2 linked regions of the Homo sapiens genome follow. The protein of the gene in region 2 purifies or fractionates together with the protein of the main gene of each other region. This does not show direct contact. Each region holds a gene or a part of one and is shown on either strand. Other genes may lie near its edges.

Evidence for each region. The genes of interacting proteins can lie anywhere in the genome.
Region 1: the proteins of SLC35D4 (region 2) and FAAH purify together in Homo sapiens (affinity purification with mass spectrometry; one large-scale study listed by BioGRID and IntAct). This does not show direct contact.

The regions. Positions count from the first base shown.
Region 1 is NC_000001.11:46,404,317-46,407,816, reverse strand, and holds part of FAAH (fatty-acid amide hydrolase 1), read right to left. Parts: intron 2,804-3,500; coding exon 2,669-2,803; intron 2,446-2,668; coding exon 2,312-2,445; intron 2,230-2,311; coding exon 2,023-2,229; intron 1,780-2,022; coding exon 1,739-1,779; intron 1,574-1,738; coding exon 1,449-1,573; intron 1-1,448. UniProt on the Homo sapiens protein: Catalyzes the hydrolysis of endogenous amidated lipids like the sleep-inducing lipid oleamide ((9Z)-octadecenamide), the endocannabinoid anandamide (N-(5Z,8Z,11Z,14Z-eicosatetraenoyl)-ethanolamine), as well as other fatty amides, to their corresponding fatty acids, thereby regulating the signaling functions of these molecules.
Region 2 is NC_000018.10:23,350,962-23,354,461, forward strand, and holds part of SLC35D4 (UDP-N-acetylglucosamine transporter TMEM241), read right to left. Parts: intron 1,329-3,500; coding exon 1,235-1,328; intron 1,034-1,234; coding exon of another isoform or gene 932-1,033; intron 1-931. UniProt on the Homo sapiens protein: Golgi-localized UDP-N-acetylglucosamine (UDP-GlcNAc) transporter that transports UDP-N-acetylglucosamine into Golgi lumen.

The DNA.
Region 1 (3,500 bases), on a different chromosome or scaffold from region 2:
AAACGGGGCTTACGTCACACAGCTTACTGTCTACATTAACGTGACTTCACTCTTCCTCTGTCTGCACCAATCTAACTTTACAGCTCCTGCACTCTGTTGGAGTGGGCACAGAGGATGACCTAGGGCCCAGCACCTGCCTCACTGGGGACATCTGGCCCCAGCCTCAACCTGGCTGTTTCTGGCCTTCAACCCCAACGCACACAGAGACAGAGAGAGAGAGAGTACCAGGACCAGAGCACAACCAGAACACTCAAGAGAGCAAAATACTGGTCTCAGATGCCCCGCAGTAGGGGATGAGCTGGGAGGAAGATGACCACTGGCCACTCCCCCACCTCCTCCAAATAACACACATAACACAAATAACCTTCCGATTCATTCCAACTCTTCAACAGGAAGCATCGGTTGACACCTCTCGCCTCAAAATCCACACCCTGCTGTGCCCACCAATCCTTAACATGGGGATTAAGGATCTTAACCAATCTTAACCAACTTAAACCAATCTTAACCAACCCCCATGTTGAAAGATCCACCTTAAACCAGACTTCAAAATCTCAGCAGATCTCCCCACCCTTCCTGCCCTCTGAGATGATCCTAAGGCTTTGCAAGACAGTGCTGCCTCGCCACAGAAAGCAACAAGCCCAGCCTGTCTCAGCAACAGGCTGCTGTGGTGGTATTTTGGGGAGCAGCACACCACGCTGCTTGCAGACCCTGGCTCACGTAGCAGCAAGTCTGGCAGGAACAGGCTACATGAGCTGGGGTCTGCAGGCAGCGTGGCGTGCTGCTCCCAAAATGTGGACAGGAATACTGTTAGAAAGGCTGCTGTTTGCTGAAGGTCAGCAGGCTGGGAAATGATTCCTGCATCCCTGGTGCCAGCAGCTGAGGCTGGGCACCTTTGAAAGCCTGTGGATTTCCGGCCGGCGCGGTAACTCAAGCCTGTAATCCCAGCACTTTGGGAGGCCGAGGCGGGCGGATCACGAGGTCAGGAGATCCAGACCATCCTGGATAACACGGTGAAACCCCGTCTCTACTACTAAAAATACAAAAAAAATTAGCCGGGCGTGGTGCCGGGCGCCTGTAGTCCCAGCTACTCGGGAGGCTGAGGCAGGAGAATGGCGTGAACCCAGGAGAATGGCGTGAACCCGGGAGGCGGAGCTTGCAGTGAGCCGAGATCGCGCCACTGCACTCCAGCCTGAGGGACAGAGCGATACTCAGTCTCAAAAAAAAAAAAAAAAAGAAAGAAAGAAAAGGAAAAAAAAAAAAAGCCTGAGGATTTCCAAATGCAGGCAAGGGCTCCATCTGGTGGCCGTCTGTGGAGGAGCAACCCGCCCTGGCCTCAGAGGCCTGGGGGACGGTTCTCAGGAGACAGGGGCTCCAAGGCCTGCCCACAAGGCCTGGGGTGGCTGTCTGGGTTCAGCGGTCCACATTCATGCCCACCCAGCCCTGCTCACCTCTTCTCTGAAGGGCAAGGGAGGCACAGTGGGGTCCAAGCGGAACATGTCCTCACACAGCAGGGCTCGCAGGCACAGTGCCAGGCTCTCCACGTCCCGGGCCATGGGGCCCACGGAGAGACGCACTGTGGGGCAGAGAGGTGAGGGAGGTAAGCAGACAAGGAGCGAGGAACCCAGACCTAGAGCAGCCTGGGGGCCAGACACTGCCCTGCCACCTGAGAAGCACGGGCGGAAGCGGGTCAGGCCGACCCCCACCCTCCTCGGGGCACTGAGAGCACCACGGACCTCACCTGCCTCCTGTCCATAGACACAGCCCTTCAGGCCACTCTTGCTGGATAAGAAACATAAGATGCTGGAAACAGGAAATGGCCACCCGCCGCCATCCCCACACCCACAGAGCAGCTCTGAACACTCACCGCTTTGGAAACTAGGACCCACGCCCGGCCAGTGGTACTGTAATGCTTCCTCCCAGCAAAACCCCGGAGACCGAATCCCCGCCTGGAGCCCAGAGAGGTTGGAAGCTAGGCCAAGGTCACACAGCGAGGGGCCCAGAAGCGCCCTCCACCCACCTTACCTGAGGCGGTTCCCTGTGGGCTTGAGGCCGCAGATGCCGCAGAAGGAGGAGGGGAAGCGGATGCTGCCTCCGATATCAGTGCCTAAGCCCAGGGGGGAGCCTCCAGACCCGATGAGGGCCCCTTCACCCCCTGAGGAGCCCCCTGGGCTTTTGGAGGACTTCCATGGGTTCACGGTCTGGCCAAAGAGGGGGTTACTGCAGTCATAGCTGGAGGAGCCAAGAATGGGTCAGCCCGTGCCATGCTGGGACCGGTGCCCCTGCCCCGCCCCGCCCCACCCCAAGACCCAACCTGAACATGGACTGTGGAACATTGGTGTGCACGAAGGGCACGGCACCCTGCAGCTTCAGCACATGCACCACTACGCTGTCGCACTCCGCCGGCACCCCTTCATTCAGGCTCAAGCCCAGCGTGGAGTCCTGGCCCTGGGAGGAGGGATGGGCACCAGAAGGGAGTGAGTCAGGGCCCGTGGGCAGCCAAGGGTCCACTCCAACAACTGTCACACAGGCCAAAACAGGTATACCAGTGTCCCCTCGGAAGGCCTCTGGACCTGATACCTCCTCTAAGGGCCCAAAATGACCCAAGATGCAGAGCAGGCTGGCAGGGATGGAGGGGACGATGGAGGCCTGGCGCTGAGGCAGAGCATACCTTGTAGGTGAAGCACTCCTTGAGGCTCACAGGGACGCCATAGAGCAGGCCCTGCCTTGGGGCCTGAGACAGCTGAGTCTCACAGTCAGCCAGATAGGAGGTCACACAGTTGGTCCCTTTGTTCACTTCCCAGGCCTGAGGAAGGGGAAGTAGACATAAGATAAAAGGAGGCTGGCCTTTTTAAGAAATTGTGGTGAAATATACATCATGTAGAACTGGCCTTTTAAAGTATACCCAGGGAGAGGGGTAACCAGCAACATGGCCCAGAGCCTGGGGCACAGAGGATGACCTAGGGCTCAGCATCTGCCTCACTAGGGACATTTGGCCCAGGCCTCATCCTGGCTGTCTCTGGCCTTCAACCAGGACCAGGGCACAACCGGGACACTCAAGGGAGCAAGATACTGGCCTCAGGTGCCCCCCAGGTAGGGGGTGAGCTGGGAGGAAGATGACCACTGGCCACTCCCTCACCTCCCCCAAGCCACATCTCTGCCAGTGAGGCAGACAGAAACCAGACAGGGGCAGCGCCCCATCACTGGTCACACTGAAGGGCAACCACAGAGCAGGACTAGACCAGACTCCTGCCTCCCGGAGCCCAGCAGTCTCTCCTCAACCCCACGCCTTCCCCACATGTAGCCCAGTCAAGCCTCCCCTTACCCAGGAAATCTTGAATTTGATAATCAAGCCATGTGGAGTAGGAGCTTGACAAAAGGGAAGAACATGCTAATAGTGGAAATCTGCCTAGAATGCTCAAACCTCACCACACAGGGTCCTACAGAAGGAAAGGTGAGGGCAGAGTGAGATGCAGCTTTCAGTAAATATTCCTGCTCCTGGG
Region 2 (3,500 bases):
GAAATGGATGTTTTTGACAGTTTTCTTCCAGCTTTCTAGCTGTTTTTTGGGAAGAGGTTTCATCAACCTCCTCACTCTGTCATGCCAGAAATCAATATCTCAGCTACTTTTTACATTCTGCTAGAATTGGAATTATTAATGCTATTAAAAAATAGGCCATGTGGACCGAGCACAGTGGCTCACACCTGTAATCCTAGCACTTTGGGAGGCTGAGGTGGGTGGATCATTTGAGGTCAGGAGTTTGAGAACAGCCTGGCCAACATGGTCAAACTCCATCTTTACTAAAAATACAAAAATTAGCTGGGTGTGGTGGCGCACACCTGTAATCCCAGCTACTTGGGAGGCTGAGTCAGGAGGGTCGCTTGAGCCTGGGAGGCAGAGGTTGCAATGAGTTGAGATCATGCCACTGCACTCCAGTCTGGGCAACAGAGTAAGACCCTGTCTCAAAACAAAACAAAACAAAAACAAAAACAAAAACAAAAAAATGCATGGGGGTGAAAATATCATTAAAAATCTTATTTTCAAAGCAAAATGTTTGAGGTTTTTTTTCTGGAGAAACTTCAACCCATAAAACACAAAGATGACTAAAAGCCCAAGTTAAATAATGATTTCATTAAATTAAATTTAATTAATTAAGGAGGCTTACTCCTTGAAAGCAGCATCTAGAGCTCTACAACTTGCCTCCCTCACAGGCACTAAGGAAATGAAACGTGCCAACAGAAGTTGGCCCCACCATGTTTCAGTTAAGATTGGCCATCCCACAGCCACTTCCCCGCTCCTTCTGTTTCTTTGTGGTTCCCCCACCACTTTATCTTATGCTTCCCCCATAGTCATTCGGATACACAGAGGTTGTTCTTAGAATAATCCCTTTTCTAAGGTTTCATAGAAATGCCCCAACCTGGCCATTTGTCTATCTTCCTTTCTCTATCACCTTGGATCGACTGAGTCCCCTTGTGTAAGTCACTTGAGCTCTGGACACCTGCACAGCCTCCAGGAAGGAAATAAGGAGCCTATCCATGATTGTCTTCCAGGACTGTAAGAAAGATGAAATATGCCATGTTGATAAAATGAGCAGGCCTCAGAAATCGTTACCTGAATGAAGGAAGGATCAGGCTCAGGGACAGCGCCTAGAAGTGGTCTCATGAAGCTCAAACAACTTCACATTACCCAGGTTCTGAGATCTTTGGATACACAGGCTCTTGAGAGAGAATTTCCCACCCCTCTTGTCTCTTACCTTAGCAAAGAAAATCCAGGCTGCACACTGCCCTGGGGCCAGAAGGTTTTTTAGCTTCACTGTACTGAACATGAGAAAGAATCCCAAAAATCCACTGGAAGGAGAAAAGATTCTCTTGTTAGTGAGGCTTGTCTTCCCTTAGCCAATGGCTGACTAGTGTCTGCTACATTTTACCAATCAATTTCAAATTATTATGCAACCTCTACCTCATCTGTGTTTTCTAGATCTGTGATCTCTGGATGAAAATAAAAAAAATTTTAAAGTCATTAAGCTCTGCTTTTCTAAGGAGCTATGGTGGGAGAATTTTGATTAGAGGAATGGTGCAAAGAAATTTCAGAGGCCTCTGGCTAAATCATGAAAGAAAAAAAAGGTGGAGGACAACACCTCTTGTTCCTTCCCATAGAACTTCTGGAGTTTTGGTGCTTGGCAAGGCAGAGCTTAAATTTTTTTCAAGCAAGATAAACTGGCAGGAAAAGACTTCCAAAGGGAAACTCACCATGTGAGAAGAGAGAGTCTGGACTGGCCTCCAGGCTCAAAAGAATCTGAAGGGGAAGGCTGGCTTCAGTGACACATATGGCTGAGGCCAGAAGTCCCCCAAACCAGGCTGTCCTGCCATAGGAGGTATGCTTTGGAAATGGTGCCTACACATGTGTGTGAATGGAAAGATCCCCACTCGAGAACCTGAGGAAGGGGCAGCATCTTGGGGCTATTCAGGAGTGTGGACCAACAAGGGCGAGGGCACAGCAGTGGATGGAGATGTAGTTGCCTGTGCTGCAACTATTTCCAAAAGTGCCCTGTGTGGCCAAGGCCAAAGCAAAGGGAGCTCCAAATGCTTCCTGACATTTGAAGGCAGGACAACTGGGGAAGAGGTGAGACAGACAGTGTGTGTGTGTGTGTGTGTGTGTGTGTGTGTGTGTGTGTGTGTGTATGTGAGAGAGAGAGAGAAAGGCTGACTTCATGCAAATATGTGCAAGTGGTGGTTTGAGTGTGACTGTTATTTGAACTTGAAAATTGCAAAGTAAGAGATATGACTGCAGTTGTAACTCCAAGCTAGAGAGGCAAGCCCTGTGAGTTGTACTTCATTTGCATCTCCAGACCCTTGACTGCCACACTTCCATCTGACCTTATACAGGCACTGGTGCGCAGCTCCAATACTGATCATAAACTCTGAGCAGGAAAAGCCCAATCTTGGGCTGCTCTTCGTATTTTCAACGGAGCCTAATATGGTGCCTCAGTTACGGTACACATTAACTAAATGCTTGTCAGGTTGAATTGGAAGCAGACTGAATTAATTGAACACACCTAAGGCCAAATGTCACAGAAATGTGTACCTTCACTTCATTAGATTAGACTAGTTCACAGCCACATTCTTGGGGCAGGACTAAAGACAGGCATTAGGTTTCCCCATGTGTATTTCAGCCTGTTTGGCCCTAATGACCTGCAAAGTTTGTTCCAATTTGCATCAGCAGTCATGGGAGGCTGAACAGCTATGGATTAAGATGTCAAGTTACTCACACCCAAAAGGCAAAGAGGGCCCGTGGGTAAGCAGCAGGCCTACCCAATCACACCCAGCGCCTGGATTTCTATTCCTCACTGTGCTTACTGACCCTCGTAACCTTAACCAAATCCCCCTTCCCACCTTTTTGTCTCAGGTTCAGTTGCCTTAAAGTAGAAATAATCATAGCAGTCCTCATCCTATCTTAATGGAAACCAGAGGCTTTTAGAACAGTAAGATTACCTATCCCCAAAGTCTCACTTTATTAACAATGAAACTGGGGCACAGGTACAATTAGAATCCAGGTCTCCATGGCTCTTCAGATCTCTGGACCAGCAAGGGCGCTGGCACAGCAGTGGACAGATGTAGTTGCCTGCGCTGGAACTATTTTCAAAAGTGCCACTGTGTGGCCAGAGCCATAGCAAAGGGAGCTCCAAACTCTTCCTGGCATTTGGAGGCAGGACAACTGAGGAAGACGTGAAGCTTCATGGAAATGTGTTCTTGACCAGCTAGACAAAGAGTGAGATATGGCCAGGTGCGGTGGCTCAAGCCTGTAATCTCAGCATTTTGGGAGGCCGAGGCGGGCGGATCACGAGGTCAGGAGATCAAGACCATCCTGGCTAACACGGTGAAACCCCGTCTCTACTAAAAATACAAAAAAAAAAAAAAAAAAAAAGAAAATTAGCCTGATGTGGTGGCGGGCACCTGTAGTCCCAGCTACTCGGGAGGCTGAGGCAGGAGAATGGGTGAACCCGGCAGGCAGAGCTTGCA